Regions from separate parts of the Homo sapiens genome. Here region 2 is linked to region 1. Evidence: fine-mapped expression QTL. A gene starts in region 1. The other region holds a variant in brackets. All regions are shown on one strand. Distances are between the middles of the regions. Region 1 holds the start of AMOTL1 (angiomotin like 1). Region 2 overlaps PIWIL4-AS1 (PIWIL4 antisense RNA 1).

Evidence for each region. PIP is the estimated chance that this variant, and not a neighbour inherited with it, causes the effect.
Region 2: its variant is fine-mapped to the expression of AMOTL1 in whole blood (TOPMed, PIP above 0.99).

The regions. Positions count from the first base shown.
Region 1 is chr11:94,764,085-94,772,415 of GRCh38, forward strand. It overlaps AMOTL1 (angiomotin like 1), which reads left to right and starts at 4,272. Exons shown (of 13, transcript NM_130847.3): 1 at 4,272-4,476. The coding sequence starts at 4,428.
Region 2 is chr11:94,642,630-94,650,960 of GRCh38, forward strand. All of the region lies in intron 4 of PIWIL4-AS1 (PIWIL4 antisense RNA 1), which reads right to left. It overlaps LINC02700 (long intergenic non-protein coding RNA 2700), which reads left to right. Exons shown (of 6, transcript NR_187352.1): 2 at 1,341-1,524; 3 at 4,706-4,949; 4 at 5,631-5,759; 5 at 7,845-7,908. Among named protein-coding and RNA genes, the nearest start is that of LINC02700, 8.8 kb to the left of the region's middle. RefSeq lists enhancers at 3,991-4,724, 7,144-7,719. The variant A/G (reference allele first, on the strand shown) is at 5,039.

The sequences.
Region 1 (8,331 bases):
CCTCTCAGCACCTGGATTTCTTGGAACTTGCCCGTTTTTTTCCTGTGCATCATTCCTCTATGCTCCCATAATGCTTTGTGTCTAATCTCTAGTGTGTTCACCATCATTTTTTATCTTTAGCATACTACACTCTGATGTAGTAAATACTTCTGAAAGTGAATTGCAGGAGCACTGACTAACCCCAGTGAGCCAGCTGGAAACCTCAATGTGCTAGGAGTCATTTCGAGTGGATTCTAGGACTGCACCTTTAGAGATTCAGAAATTTGGAGGTGGAACATGAGGAGTTTAAATTTTTACATGCTTTGGTTTCATAAGTTACACTTCAGAAAGTGCTTGAAATTGAACTTAAAAAATATCCTTACTTGTTCTAGGAGCAAAACAAGCATTTTGATCAAAGCAGCCTGGGTGCATCAAATCATTGGTTTGTTCATTCAACAGTCATTAATGGAGAACTACCAGTTGTAGCGATGGTCCCAGGTGAGGCTGTGTGTAGTAGCTGTTCCTTACGTAGTCATGTTCATCCACTCTTCTTTTGCTGTTTGGCTTCTCTGTCTTTGCAAGCCCAAGCCCATTCTTAGGGCCCATTCAGTGAAAGTATTAGCTGGTAAAGACTTTAAATGTTTGTCAAGAAGGGGTGCTGAGAAAAGTGAGAGGAGAAAGACATTTGCATTTTAATAGAGTATTTAAATTCCTTGGTATTTCAAATTACTGGAGAAGAGGAGGGTTTCTAACTTTTACTGAATTCCTAGATGTGCCCAGCACTTGACCTGTATTATCTCATTTAACCCTTGCAATAAGTTTATGAGGCAAATGTTATTATTTTATAGAGGAGGAAGCTGAGGCTCTCCGTGTCTAGAAATAGATAGAACATGGACTAGAAGCAGGTCTTACTGTAAAGGCCCTGCTCATTCTCCTCTATCCAGATGCCTCTGTTACTTCAACATTCTTCCCGCCTCTATGCTTGTTGGGAACAGCTTGGTATCACTGGAACATCCTGGTACTCGTCCTGTTTTGAGTGAAAGACTGCTCTCTGGGCTGCCCCAAAGAGCACTAAAATTGGCCCATCATCTTCTTAGCTTTCTTAGGAATGAGTAAATGACAACTTGGGTCACTTTAGAAAGGATGCTGACCTTTAGGATGAGTGCATAGATCTAAAGAAGGCACAGATGTGGACTGGTTCACTACCTTGCTGTTAGTGAAGGTGTGTTCAATTTTTATTGTAAACATACTTTGTTTCCATTAGACACAAACCAGACATCAGAATCTCCAGCCAAGTGTGCTTACTGAAAGATGTTATTGATAACTTCTTGCTAGTGAAATTCAGAGTCTTTTTTTGCAGGCCTTAGTTCCTGAACAATAGATTCAGGAACTAAGTTAAGGCCTGAAAAGATTGTTTTCTGCATTTGATGTAGAGCTTATTCACAGATAAGGAAATTAAGGCACAGGAGGGAAACATTGGTCTCCAGCAGTGTTTTCTGCCTGTGCTTCCATGTATCTGATTACTGGGTATTAATTTGAGGAGTCTAGGCTAGGTCCACCTGATTGAATCAGAAGATCCTTGAACCCACAAGCTGTGCCTAGCACTTCATTGCAGGTCTAAGAATCTGTAGCATTTGATAGAAGGACCCACTTCTTAAAACTTCCTCTGGCTTCCATGCCTTTACCTTTTCCCAGCTCTTCTACTTCTCCAGATTCTTCCTCTTCTCCCTCCTTCTTTCCCTGTTTTCCAGTTGTGGACATTCTGTTAATGAACTGATCTTCAAAGCTTCATCTCTCCTTTTCTCTACACCTCTGTCCTCCACTTCTCACCCAGTCCCTTGTTCCTTGTTTCCTCTTGCCCAGAGGATAGTAAGTCACTCAGCATCTTTCTCAAACCGTTTCCTCTTCTCAACTGTGCTTCATCTGTCATTGGTCTAATGATCCATTCTTCTAAGACTGCAAGATCTATTCTTCCTATGACTGGGCTCAAAGCCTAGGTTAACTTGATTACTTTGTCCTTTTCCCCAGGATAAACAACGAGTCAATGAGAAGAATAAAATCTTGCTTCAAAGATTTGATACCTTTCTTTATGACATCTGGTATCTCCAAAGATATGGTATCTCTCATTTCCTTTTTATCACCTCTGTCAACCTCACCTATCATTGCTTCCTGCAACTATCCTAGATAGTCTCTTGAAATAATAATAGCAAATGTATATTGAATACTACATGCATTGTGCTGAGTATTTTACATTTGTTATTTTATTCAGTCTTCACAACCACTCTGTGAGATGCTATTTTCTTCATCTTGCCAAAAAGGATACTGAGGTTTAGAGAAGTTAGGCAACTTGCTCAGCGTCACACAGATACTGAATGGTGGAGCTGCAACTCAGCTCATGCCTGTTTTGTTCTAAACTTGATGGTTGTAACTTGGAAATTTTGCTGCTTCCTAGACTATAGGATGGTATCTAGGAGTGGGCAATTAGTAAAGATTAGTTTCCTTTCTTCTTTTTCTATCCATCACTTCTTCCCCAATTTGTATTAAATTCGCGCAAATGTTAGGTGAATCAGTGGTCCCTTCACTGTCCATAAGATAACCACTTCAGCTCCTAATTTGCGATTCAGGGTTCACAATGTGTAATACAAGGCACATTGAGGCAGAGGTTGTTTCTATACCTGGCTTTGCTACTAAACTTGTTCTGTAACATTGGACAAGTCATTCAACAGCTATGCCTGAGCTTCTTCATCCGGCAAGTGAAAGGTTTAGTTGACACTTTCTTAGATTCTTTCCAGGCCTACATTTTTGTGACGTTGTTATTCTGCCTTCCCTTGTTTTCTCCTCGTTTCTGGTAAAAACGCTTTCCTCTATGCCTTCTTCCCAAGCACCCAGACCTTGTCATCTCCCTCTTGGCTTTTGCCTCTGCTTGCCCAGTGCTGCCTTTTCCTCTTTCTGCTGTGTCTGAACTCCACCACCCTCCCAGGCTTTTCCTTCTGTGTAGTCAGTGCCTCTCTCCGCCCTTCCCAGGCATCTGCAGTACTTGGATCTCCTGCTTTGTTGCTTGCCTGTTTTCTGTTCACACATCTTGTCTTCTTAGACAGATAACAGATCCTTGAAGGGCTGGTCAGCTGCTCTAAGTTTCTTTTGTGTGCTAAGTTTCTTTTGTGTGTACCAGGGTAGATGACTTTAAATGGAGTAGGCATTTCATAAATAATTGTTAAATGATTACATTTGGGCTTTATCTTGAGAGCAGAGTTTACTCAGTAGGAGGGCCCATCAGGGGAATCAGAATCAGGACATGCAACCCACCAGAACTGATGAGAGGTAAAACTGCTGGCAGTCTAGTTAGGGAACTGCCACAATCCAGGGAGGAGTCCCTGAAGGCCGGACCTAGATAGCAGGTAAACAGAGGCAGGGAGCACCAGATAAGAGAGGCTTGGTGTGCGCTAACTCTCCCACTAACATCCTGGGCAGCAACTGTACAGTTACCTAGCTTTCTCTTCTCCAAGCAGTAGAGCTGCCCGGAAAAAGCCAGGCAGAAGTGCTATGGGGCAGGCTCGGGCACCCCAGATTAGGGCTCCAGAGAGCCGCCAGTATAAACCAATATAATGAGGTGGATGAGTAGTTCTCAGCACAGCCTGATTTTAAGAGGTGGGGCAACATTTTCCCAGAGTCGCTTACTTTCTTTACCTCTACTCAGGCAGATAACAGCCTGGGGATTTATGGCCAGAGGATGTACGGTTCTGCGAACACATTTAATATCCGAGGCTGTCAGGTCTGTTTTGGCCCTTCTGTTTGTCAACGGAGCACATAGTAGCAGCTTATCGCCCAATCTCAAGTGCGTGATGGAAGCACTGGGGCCTGGGGAATGCTGAGAAAAGTGTGGCCACTTTCTACCTGGAAATTCCACTTAAGAAGAAAAAAAACCAACCTAAGCAAATCTAGACTTTTGGGCAGATCCGGAAACAGAATTTTGGCCGGCATTGGGCTGGTGGGGAAGGAAGACAAAGTGGAGGGAGAACTGGTGAGTCTGAAATTAATCAAAACCCGGCAGGGGACAAAGGAAGGGATGCTGTCGCCCTCCTAAGTCTCAGGGAGACACGTCAGCTTGAGCTCTGGGCAATTTCAGCCTGGCAGTCTCGCGGCCCGGGGAGGGGCGGCGGGTGTCTGCAGACGGGCTCTAGGGCCCAGCGGCCGGGCGCCACGGCGGGGGTGGAGTGTAGGGTTCTAGTGACGAGCCCGGGCGACCCTCCCCGGCCCGCGCGCGGGGAGCGGGGAGCGCGGACGGCGGCGGGAGCGCGCGAGAAGCTCTAGGACCCAGCAGCGGTTGTCGGGTTTGGGGCTGGAGGTGAAGCCCTGTGTGAATGGGGTTGATTGTCCGGCGCCACTTCCCCGCGCTGCCCGGCAGCCGTCTTCCCCAGCCGAGGGACTGAACTAGCCATGATCGCCTCATGTGGAGGGCAAAGTTGCGCCGGGGAACTTGTGAGCCTGCGGTGAAAGGTAACCAGCCCCCACTCGAGGTGCCGGGAGGGCGTCTCCGAGTCTCCCACGCGAAGAACCCAGTCGCCCCGGGCTCCCCGGGCCCCTGCTGCTCACGGAAGGGGGCAGCTTCTGGGGGCCCGGGGCTGAGATCCCAGATTGTTGTTTTTAAGCGGGTTCCCTTGCCCCGCTCCAGGTCCAGTTGCCTGCGGGCCGGGCCTCAGCGTCTTGCCGCCCCGCGACCCACGTTGACTGAAGTTGTGGCCCCGGGGTTTGGGCCCCGGGGTGCTGCGCGCCCGACGCGGGGCTGGCCTTTCCTGAGGGGCGCAGCCATATGGCCAGACACTCCGAGGCGCGCCCGCGCCCGCGCGCGGGTCTCGCGGCGAGGGAGGGGACGGAAGGGGGTGTCCGGTGCAGCTTTCCCCGGCGCGAGACAAAGGCGCGCGCACCGGCCCGCCCGACGGGCTCTGGCGCTGTGGACTGGACCCTTTCTGCCCGCCGGCCAGACCCGGCTCTGGCGGGTGGGGGCGACGAAAGGGTCGCACCCCAGCCCCAGACGCTCGGATCGCGTTAGCTGCTGCTCCTTCTTTGTTCTCTCCCCAGACAAGTTTCTTTGACAAACTGGAGAGTTACATCCAGCTCCCGCTTGCCTGTTAGGGCTGCCTTTACAATAATCTGCTTTCGCGGGGAGAAAATTTAAACTTTCCAAATGGAACTGTTTTTTCTTGGAATGTGACATTTGTGGCAGGAGGGAGAGTGGTACGTTGGCCGATGACAGCCGAGCGGAACGGTGGCCTAGTGCCGGGACAGGGACCGAGCGTGCCCCATAGGCGGCCGGGCTGGAGGACGCGGCGGCAGAGCAGACGAGCCCTGGCGCGCACCTCTAGGGCCTCCGCTACCTGGACTGCGCTCGCGGCGACGTGTCCAAGTTTCCCCCCTCAGAGCCCCAGGCCGAGAATCCCGGGTATCTGCGCAAAGCTCCCGCGCCTCGCCCACCCTACTCTTCCTATCTTTACTGATGACTAGGAAGACTTTCCTTTTCCATTTTTGTTCGAAGATTTTTGCCTTTTTGGCTTCGGTGTTGGTTTCCTGTCTCCGCGTGGCAAATACCTTTTGGCCGGGCTAGCGTGTGGATCACCTGGACTGGGGTTTCAGAGGTGGGCCCTGAGCGTGCGGCCTCCTGAGACGATGCGGTTTGGACCCAACATTTTGTCCCCATGGTCCCTCAGCTCCCTTTCTCTGTGAGGCCTTGGTTTCCCATTTTCTTCTCCTGAGGCATGTTATGAGAACTGAGTTTTTGTACTGCTTATAGAAGGCCTTGGTGGTGGTGGGGTACGTGGTCTCGAGAGCCAGTTGTGATACCTCGAAGATGCTTTCGGCTAACCAAAGCAGTAACGTGCTAACCTGCTCACCATAAACGAATTAAACCAGAATAGAGGGCTATTAATAGCTACAGTTCCAGAAAATTTCCTTCCTTTTCGGGAAGCAAAAAGTCAAGGCTTGAAATATTAAACAATCATGGCTCCCTGCTTCCAAAACTGGCCTATGGGTCACTGCCAAACTGGCTAAGATTTCCCCTGGCTGCATACCACTCCTGGGCCCGGGCAGCTGTGGAAGTCAGACCCAGGTTAACGATTAAGGAGCTCTCTAGATTGCAAGGTCTTAAAGAATCTAGAGCAACTGACATTTACTTCCTAGTAAGGTGCTCTGAGCCTTATAGTGTGTATCTACTTTGAAGGCTCTTTATGAGAATAATGTGGGAACAGTAGTTTAATATACTTTGAACTGTTAGTAAAGGGTGGAAAAGCACTGATTTGACTAGAATGAAGGAAAACACCGATTCGACCAGAATGAAAAGGGTAGGACATAGGTAGAAGGCTTTATACAGGCTCTACTTTTCCTTATGATGGTGGTGGGGGTTGGGGGGAGGGATGAGGATGTTTAGTTCTTGGAGTGCACTTTTGTTTTTCTGTGATGCATTTTTCAAGATAAATAAGGAAACCTTTGTAAACCTGCAGGTGGATAGGAGAGAAGGTGCTGTACCTGTAACGCCCCTTTCCCTCCCCCTTCTTTTTAAAATGCACAGAAGTCTTGGTCTTTCAGGTTCTTTGCAGATGATGGAGGATGTAGCATACTAATTTTCCAAAGGGCATGTGGAGATCAAAGCATTTAAAAATACATCTTTTCACGGAGGCTAATGGAGGATTTTCAGTTTAAATGAGATTTTAAAGTGCTGTCGTTAAGAAAAACACATGAATGCAGAAATGTGAGTGATTTTATGGGAAAGCACTCCGCTGATCAGACTTGAGAGTGTCTGCCCTGGGCCAGTTAGTCTAGAGGCTGTTGTGGGTAGAGCTCAGCTTTTCTGATGTCTACCCCTAAGGAAAAGTGTGGACCCAGGGCCTAGGGAAAAGATGGCTGAACTAATTGAAATGAGCAGTCTGGCTGGTGAGAGTTCTGTTGAAAGGTATAGCCTCTAGGTATCAGTGCTGCATTTCTTCATAGTAATTTGTGAAAATGCTTTGAAAATGATAAAACAAAGACTTTTGAAAAAAATAATTAATGACATGAAATGGGAATTGCTAGTGAAAATTGTAAAAGTTTGATTTTTCAGGCCAATAAATTAAAAAGAAGTAACTTTATAGGACCTGCTAATATTTCTGATATATAAAATTCCCCCAAAGTAACCTTTTCTATTTTCTTTTCTTTTTGGCGGGGTTGGGGGGGGGGTGCGGTGTGTGGCTATCTGCATTTTAAATGCATAAGGAAGCTCAGGTCAGAAAATTCTGCAGTGTTTTGAATAATTTTTCTCCTATTTTTCATTAATTTTGGCAGGTTCTTATGACTCAGAATTTAGTAGGTAATAAAATCCTCGAAAAGCAAGGGGTAGTGTGGAGGTCAAGTAAAGGGAGATATTTGATTACAAGGTTTGTTGGAAATAGTCTGAGGTTGTTGTGGTTTTATGTTTTGTTTTGTTTTTTTGTTTGCCTAGTGATTTTTTTAAAGTTAATTTTGTTGGCTTGGCTTTGTTTTGTCTTGAAGGAGAGGTACAATGTAAATCTTGGCCATTGTGGGTAGGGCAGTCCTCTACTTTTGCTGGAAGGAAGCCACTCCTGCTCTTGGTTTATGTGTTGGCATCAAGCTGAGTTCTACTTTAACTTGTGAGGCCCTTGGCTCTGCTCTCACGGCCAGGCCTTGTGTAACCTTAGGGTATATTCATTTTGGACACTCAGGACAGGACTCCTGGACTCCTAAAGGGGCTCACACATCAGGCATTTTCCCCCCATCTTTTAGGAGAGAGTAGGAGAGTAGCTCTAAGGTGTTGGAAATGTATCCCTGTTAAGATACTGAAGAATTAGATTTAAGTTTTCAAAAACTGTCGTTCTATGGTGTGTGTTTAAACCTGTGTTTGAGACCTCACTGGCCAATATTGCAGCTATATACCTCTATTTTTTCATTTTGTTTTTAAGTAAAATGTCTGCTGTTTACTTTTAACTTTTCGTTTTGAAATGATCATAGCTTCATAGGAAGTTGCAAAAATAGTAGAGAGGTCCTGTGTACCCTTCACCCAGTTTCCCCCATTGGTAACATCTTACATAACCATAGTACAGTAGCAGAACCAGGAAATTGACATTGGTACAGTCCACAGAGCATATTCAGATTTCACCAGTTTTACATGCACATGTAAAATTTGTATTTCTATGTGTGTACTTCTATGCATTTTTTCATGTGTAGATTCATGTAACCGCTACCACAATCAAGGTACAGACTATTTTATTACCCCAATGATCTCCCTTATGCTACACCTCTATAGTTGCACTGGCCCTCTTCTCCCCATCCTCACTCTGTTGCTAAATGCTTAGCAACCACTACTCC
Region 2 (8,331 bases), 120 kb before region 1:
ATCCCTTATTTCCCCACCCCAACCCCTTATATCTCTGTGCCCCGATCCCTTATTTCCATGCCCCAACCTCTTATATCTCTGCACCCCAATCCCTTATTTCCGCGCCCCAACCTCTTATATCTCTGCACCTTTGTGCCCCAACCCCTTCTCTGCTTTTCTGGAGGGCAAGAACTCCCCACCCCTTCTCCGTGTCTCTACTGTTTTCTCTGGGCTTGCCTCCTTTACTATGGGCAAGCTTCCACCTTCCATTCCTCCTTCTTCTCCCTTAGCCTGTGTTCTTAAGAACTTAAAACCTCTTCAACTCTCACCTGACCTAAAATCTAAGCATCTTATTTTCTTCTGCAATGCCGCTTGACCCCAATACAAACTCGACAGTAGTTCCAAATAGCCAGAAAATGGCACTTTCAATTTTTCCATCCTACAAGATCTAAATAATTCTTGTCATAAAATGGGCAAATGGTCTGAGGTGCCTGACATCCAGGCATTCTTTTACACGTCGGTCCCTCTCTAGTCTCTGTTCCCAATGCAACTCATCCCAAATCTTCCTTCTTTCCCTCCCACCTGTCCCCTCAGTCCCAACCCCAAGCGTCACTGAGTCTTTCTAATCTTCCTTTTCTACAGACCCATCTGACCTCTCCCCTCCTCCCCAGGCTGCTCCTCGCCAGGCCGAGCTAGATCCCAATTCTTCCTCAGCCTCCGCTCCTCCACCCTATAATCCTTTTATCACCTCCCCTCCTCACACCCGCTCTGGCTTAGTTGGTCTGGCTTAGTTTCATTCCGTGACTAGCCCTCCCCTACCTGCCCAGCAATTTGCTCTTAAAAAGGTGACTAGAGCTAAAGGCATAGTCAAGGTTTAATGCTCCTTTTTCTTTATCCCAAATCAGATAACATTTAGGCTCTTTTTCATCAAATATAAAAAACCCAGCCCAGTTCATGGCTCGTTCGGCAGCAACCCTGAGACGCTTTACAGCCCTACACCCTAAAAGGTCAAAAGGCCGTCCTATTCTCAATATACATTTTATTACCCAATCTGCTCCCGACATTAAATAAAACTCCAAAAATTAAATTCTGGCCCTCAAACCCCACACCAGGATTTAATTAACCTCGCCTTCAAGGTGTACAACAATAGAAAAAAGTTGCAATTCCTTGTCTCCACTGTGAGACAAACCCCAGCCACATCTCCAGCACACAAGAACTTCCAAACGCCTGAACCGCAGCGGCCAGGCGTTCCTCCAGAACCTCCTCCCCAGGAGCTCGCTACAAGTGCCAGAAATCTGACCACCAAGCCAAGGAATGCCTGCAGCCCAGGATTCCTCCTAAGCCGTGTCCCATCTGTGCAGGACCCCACTGGAAATCGGACTGTTCAACTCACCTGGCAGCCACTCACAGAGCCCGTGGAACTCTGGCCCAAGGCTCTCTGACTCCTTCTCGGCTTAGCGGCTAAAGACTGACACTGCCCGATCGCCTCGGAAGCCCCGTAGACCATCACGGACGCCGAGCTTTAGGTAACTCTCACAGTGGAGGGTAAGTCCGTCCCCTTCTTAATCAATACGGAGGCTACCCACTCCACATTACCTTCTTTTCAAGGGCCTGTTTCCGTTGCCTCCATAACTGTTGTGGGTATTGACAGCCAAGCTTCTAAACCTCTTAAAACTCCCCAACTCTGGTGCTAACTTAGACAATACTCTTTTAAGCACTCCTTTTTAGTTATCCCCACCTGCCCAGTTCCCTTATTAGGCCGAGACACTTTAACTAAATTATCTGCTTCCCTGACTATTCCTGGATTACAGCTACATCTCATTGCCACCCTTCTTCCCAATCCAAAGCCTCCTTTGCGTCCTCTTCTTGTATTCCCCCACCTTAACCCACAAGTATAAGATACCTCTACTCCCTCCTTGGCGACCGATCATGCACCCCTTACCATCTCAGTAAAACCTAATCACCCTTACCCCGCTCAATGCCAATATCCCATCCCATAGCATGCTTTGAAAGGATTAAAGCCTGCTATCACTCGCCTGCTATAGCATGGCCTTTTAAAGCCTATAAACTCTCCTTACAATTCCCCCATTTTACCTGTCCTAAAACCAGACAAACCTGACAAGTTAGTTCAGGATCTGTGCCTTATCAACCAAATTGTTTTGCCTATCCACCCCATGGTGCCAAACCCATATACTCTCCTATCCTCAATACCTCCCTCCACAATCCATTATTCTGTTCTGGATCTCAAACATGCTTTATTTACTATTCCTTTGCACCCGTCATCCCATCCTCTCTTCGCTTTCACTTGGACTGACCCTGACACCCATTAGGCTCAGCAAATTACGTGGGCTGTACTGCCGCAAGGCTTCACAGACAGCCCCCATTACTTCAGTCAAGCCCAAATTTCATCCTCATCTGTTACCTATCTCGGCATAATTCTCATAAAAACACACGTGCTCTCCCTGCTGATCGTGTCCGATTAATCTCCCAAACCTCAATCCCTTACAAAACAACAACTCCTTTCCTTCCTAGGCATGGTTAGTGTGGTCAGAATTCTTACACAAGAGCCAGGACCGCACCCTGTAGCCTTTCTGTGCAAACAACTTGACCTTACTGTTTTAGCCTAGCCCTCATGTCTCCGTGCAGCGGCTGCTGCTGCCCTAATACTTTTAGAGGCCCTCAAAATCACAAACTATGCTCAACTTATTCTCTACATTTCTTATAACTTCCAAAATCTATTTTCTTCCTCATACCTGACGCATATACTTTCTGCTCCCTGGATCCTTCAGCTGTACTCACTCTTTGTTAAGTCCCAAAATTACCATTGTTCCTGGCCCAGACTTCAATCCGGCCTCCCACATTATTCCTGATACCACACCTGACCCACATGACTGTATCTCTTTGATCCACCTAACATTCACCCCATTTCCTCATATTTCCTTCTTTCCTGTTCCTCATCCTGATCACGCTTGATTTATTGATGGCGGTTCCACCAGGCATAATCACCACACACCAGCAAAGGCAGGCTATGCTATAGTACAAGCCACTAGCCCGCCTCTTAGAACCTCTCATTTCCTTTCCATCGTGGAAATCTGTCCTCAAGGAAATAACTTCTCAGTGTTCCATCTGCTGTTCTACTACTCCTCAGGGATTATTCAGGCCCCCTCCCTTCCCTACACATCAAGCTCGAGGATTTGCCCCCACCCACGACTGGCAAATTAGCTTTACTCAACATGCCCTGAGTCAGATAACTAAAATACCTCTTAGTCTAGGTAGACAGTTTCACTGGATAGGTAGAGGCCTTTCCTACAGGGTCTGAGAAGGCCAGCACAGTCATTTCTTCCCTTCTATCAGACATAATTCCTCAGTTTAGCCTTCCCACCCCTATACAGTCTGATAACAGACCAGCCTTTATTACTCAAATCAGCCAAGCAGTTTTTCAGGCTCTTAGTATTCAGTGAAACCTTTATATCCCTTACAGTCCTCCGTCTTCAGGAAAAGTAGAACAGACTAAAGGTCTCTTAAAAACACACCTCACCAAGCTCAGCCACCAACTTAAAAAGGACTGGACAATACTTGTACCACTTTCCCTTCTCAGAGGTCAGACCTGTCCTCAGAATGCTACAGGGTACAGCCCATTTGAGCTCCTGTATAGATGCTCCTTTTTATTAGGCCCCAGTCTCATTCCAGACACCAGACCAACTTAGACTGTGCCCCCAAAAAACTTGTCATCCCTACTATCTTCTGTCTAGTCATACTCCTATTCACCATTCTCAACTACTCATACATGCCCTGCTCTTGTTTACACTGCCAGTTTACACTGTTTCTCCAAGCCATCACAGCTGATATCTCCTGGTGCTATCCCCAAACCACCACTCTTAACTCTTAAAGTGAATAAATAATCTTTACTGGCAAGGCTATGCTGAACCTCCTTAGGCACTCTCTAATTAGATGTCCTGGGTCCTCCCAATTCTTAGTCCTTTAATACCTGTTTTTCTTCTTCTCTTATTCCGTTTAGTTTTTAATTTATACAAAACTGTATCCAGGCCATCACTAATAATTCTAAATGACAAATGTTTCTTCTAACAACCCCACAATATCACCCCTTACCACAGAATCTTCCTTCACCTTAATCTCTTCCACTCTAGGTTCCCAAGCTGCCCCTAATCCCGCTCAAAGCAGCCCTGAGAAACATCGCCCATTATCTCTCCATACCATCCCCAAAAATTTTCGCCATCCCAACACTTTACCACTATTTCGCTTTATTTTTCTTATTAATATAAGAAGACAGGAATGTCAGGCCTCTGAGCCCAAGCTGAGCCATCATGTCCCCTGTGACTTGCATGTACACATCCAGATGGCCAGTTCCTGCCTTAACTGATGACATTCCACCACAAAAGAAGTGAAAATGGCCTGTTCCTGCCTTAACTGATGACATTGTCTTGTGAAATTCCTTCTCCTGGCTCATCCTGGCTCAAAAACTCCCCCACTGAGTACCTTGTGACCCCCACTCCTGCCCGCCAGAGAACAACCCCCTTTGACTGTAATTTTCCTTTACCTACCCAAATCTTATAAAACGGCCCCACCCCTATCTGCCTTTGCTGACTCTCTTTTCGGACTCAGCCCGCGTGCACCCAGGTGATTAAAAGCTTTATTGCTCACACAAAGCCTGTTTGGTGGTCTCTTTACATGGACGCACATGAAAATCATCATTCCTGTTTTACAGATGAAGAAACTGAGGTCCAGAGAAGTTAAACGACCTTCCTAAGATTACACAGCTTAGTAAGTGGCAGAACCACAGCTGGAAGCCAGGTCCTTCCTCACGCAAGTCCTGGCTCATTCATTCCTCTTCCAAAGACTTGCTGAGCACCTTCTAGGTGCCAGATGCGGTGCTGGCTCCTGGGGACATGGGAGTGAACAGGCCAGGCGTGGCCCTGAACCATCAAATAGACAACCACAGAAATAACAACGTGAGTTAAAATGAGATTATGAAGAAGAGACACAGGTTTCTACAATGGTTTAGTAGAGGGATCTCTAACCAAGTTTGGAGAGTTGAGAA[A/G]GTCTCTATGAGGCAGTCACATCCATGTAAGCTAAGATCTGAAAGACAAAAGTTGTTATCCAGGAGAGTGGCAGCAGGGAGAGCATTCCAGATGCAGGGAATAGCTTGGCACGTTTGTGGAAGAGAAAAATCTGTTAACGTGATTGTAGGGTAGGGTGGAAAAAAGGAGAAATGGAGCAAGATGAGGCTAGGGAGGCAGGCAGGGACCAGACTACGAACTGCCTTAAAGCTCTGCTTAAAAATGTTTGCCACGATTTGAAGAGTAATGGGAAGCCTTGAAGGTTTTTAACCAGAAGAGTCTTATATTTAGATTTGTTATTTTTTAAATATCACACTGGCTGCTGTTTAGGAATGATGCTGGAGGCTGACGAAGATAAGGGTGGAAAGTGGGCAATAAATCAGGAGCTGTTGCAACATTCCCAGCAAAGGATAATGGTGAATGTAATGGCAATGGGGATTTGGGGAAGCAGGGGGGCCTCGTGGCTGATTGGATGTGGTGTTGGTGAGGGAGGAGGGGTCACAGATTTCCATCCTCCCATGGGTGTTTCTATCTCCCAGGCTAGGCTTCTTGTGTTTGCTTTCCTTCTTGCAGAACAAAGACAAAACCGGGCCCTTCCACACAGTAGCTGGAACACAAAGGAAGATCAGCCAAGCCTCAACATAATCTCATAAAAATTCTTCAAATATCCCATTGTTATGGATTCATACATCAGGAAAGCAGGTAAAATATTTCACCTTGATGCTCACCTAGATGGTCAGACTCTTTGAGGAAGACATCAAACTTTTCCCCAGAAAGAAAAAATAAATAACTTTTTAGACTATACAAAAGGGTCAATGTCATGTTACATAAGATGCTCAAACTCCTGTCTTGATGTTAAGTCCACTGGTCTTACCACAGCTTCTGAACACCAAGACTGCTGCTGTGACAGTGACAAGAGAATTATTTAGAATTAAAAAACAATTGTCCTTACATTTTCTCCTCAAAATTCTAGGGGAGAAAGAGCTTCCAAGTAAGCAGAGCCAAGGCACTATTGAGAGTGACAGACTGGAAAGAAAGGAATTAAGTGGCCTTTAGCTCCTGTCTGTTGGAGAGTGGTGTAGTAGAAAATACTTAGGCTTTGGAATCTGAGCTGGGTTCAGATCCTGCTTCTCTCATTTACTAGCTGCATGTAGATGAGTATCTTAAATTGCTTTTTCTGTGTCACAAATGACAATTTAAAAAACCTCTATCTCACAGGTTATTATAAAAAGTAAGACACGCATTCAAGGGTAGCATAGTACTAGGCACAGAGGAAGAACATTCAACAGGTGTGAGAGACAATGTTGTCAATATGCTATATGCAAGGAAAAATGTTTTTAGGTATTTTTTGACTCTTTGATGCTGAATGGAAAATTCTTCACTGTCATTAGCAATAATGGAGAAGATAATTTCAGTTTGCAATTGGAGGCTCATAAAACAAGTAACTGGATTTTCAGAAAAGTTAAGTATTTGTTGAATCTATAATGCACTAATCGTTTTGTAAGGTGATGTGAGATACTTAAAGAGGCATTAAGATACAAACATAGAGACTAGTGGGTGAGACATAAAAGCAAAGACCTAGGAGAAGGAAGCTCATCTAGGAAAGGAAGCTCCTTAGATCTAGCTTGGCTGAGTTGCAAGCCAGACTGGAGAAGGTAAGTGCTCTCAGAAACAGGAATTGCTGTCTGGCAGGGCCTGAATGATAAGATCTACTCTTCCCCTGTCCAAATGCAACCCCTAAAAGCCAGTTCAGAATAAATAAGGAAGAATATTTTTTTCAGAGCAATTAAGAGTCATTATGAAGTAGGTCAGAATAAAATATGGCAGCTTCAGGCTGTGTGCGATTACTGCTCTGATATTTATCTGCAAAGCAGGAGTCATTTATCCTATTCTAAAATAAATAACTCGGCCAGGCATGGTGGCTCATGCCTGTAATCCCAGCACTTTTGGAGGCCAAGGCAGGTGGATCACCTGAGATCAGAAGTTCGAGACCAGCCTGGCCAACATGGTAAAACCCTGTCTCTACTAAAAATACAAAAATTAGCCAGGCATGGTGGTGGGGATCTGTAATTCCAGCTACTCGGGAGGCTGAGGCAGGAGAATTGCTTAAACCCAGGAGGTGGAGGTTGCAATGAGCCGAGATTGTGCCACTGCACTCCAGCCTGGGTGACAGAGCAAGACTGTGTCTCAAAAAATAAATATATAAATAAATAAAATAAATAACTCAATGAGTTTTCAAAAACAACCAAAAAATCAGCTTGAGAAATAGTTTTCAGACAAACTTAGCCTGAGTAGACCCACCCTGAGAGATTTGAGGGCTCTACTGAGGCAGGAGACTAGGGCCTGGAGGCAGGGAACATAAAGCCAATCCACACTGACTTTACTAAATCAAATGAAAGCACCTTAGCAATGACAGGAATGTGAATGGTTTTGTAAATTCCCTTCATCCTCTCCATTCATACCATTTCCACTTTGTAACTTCACTTTCATCCTCTCCATTTACATAGATCACACACCAACTAACATCCTCTCCATTTACAGTAGGGCACATTCTGAGTAAATGACTCTGTGACTTCACTTTATTCACTTCATTTACATAGAATATTCACCAAGTGACCAACGGGAAACCTCTAGAGCATTAAAACCCCAGAAAATTCTGTAAGCCGGGCTCTTGAGCCTCTATGATTGGGCTGTTCCCACACTGTGGCGTGTACTTTTATTCTCAATAAATCCCTGCTTTTGCTTTCCTTGCCTCATTTGTGCATTTTGTCAACTTCTTCATTTGAGATGCCAAGAACCTGAACACCTTCTACTGGTAACATATATTTTGGCGAGCCAGCCTGGAGACAAGGTAGGCCCAAAGTTTGGGATTTATTTTTCTTTCCCCTTTTACATACAGGGAAACCTTTTTCTCTCTCTTTTTCCTTTCCAACTTGGGACCCTCCGTGATCAGCGCCTAAACATAGAGACAACTGCAAGTTTCCAGCCAGGGCCACTCTCTGGTGAAACCTACAGGTTTCCATGTGACGCATCTGACCACCACCACCCGGCTGGGTGGGCAACCTGAGTCCTTTTCCTTGGTTTTGTTTTTCTGAGTCCTATTCCTTTCTCCCTTTTACTGAGTTATTTTTCTTTTTCCTGTTTCGGTCTTTCAGCTACTCCTAGTAGCTCCCGGTTAATTGAGGACAGCTGGCCGGGGCCACTCTCGGGTGCCTTCTGAAGGCCAAGAAACGAAAAGGGATGGCTGCCCTGCCCAGAAGGGGGAAGGACTTTT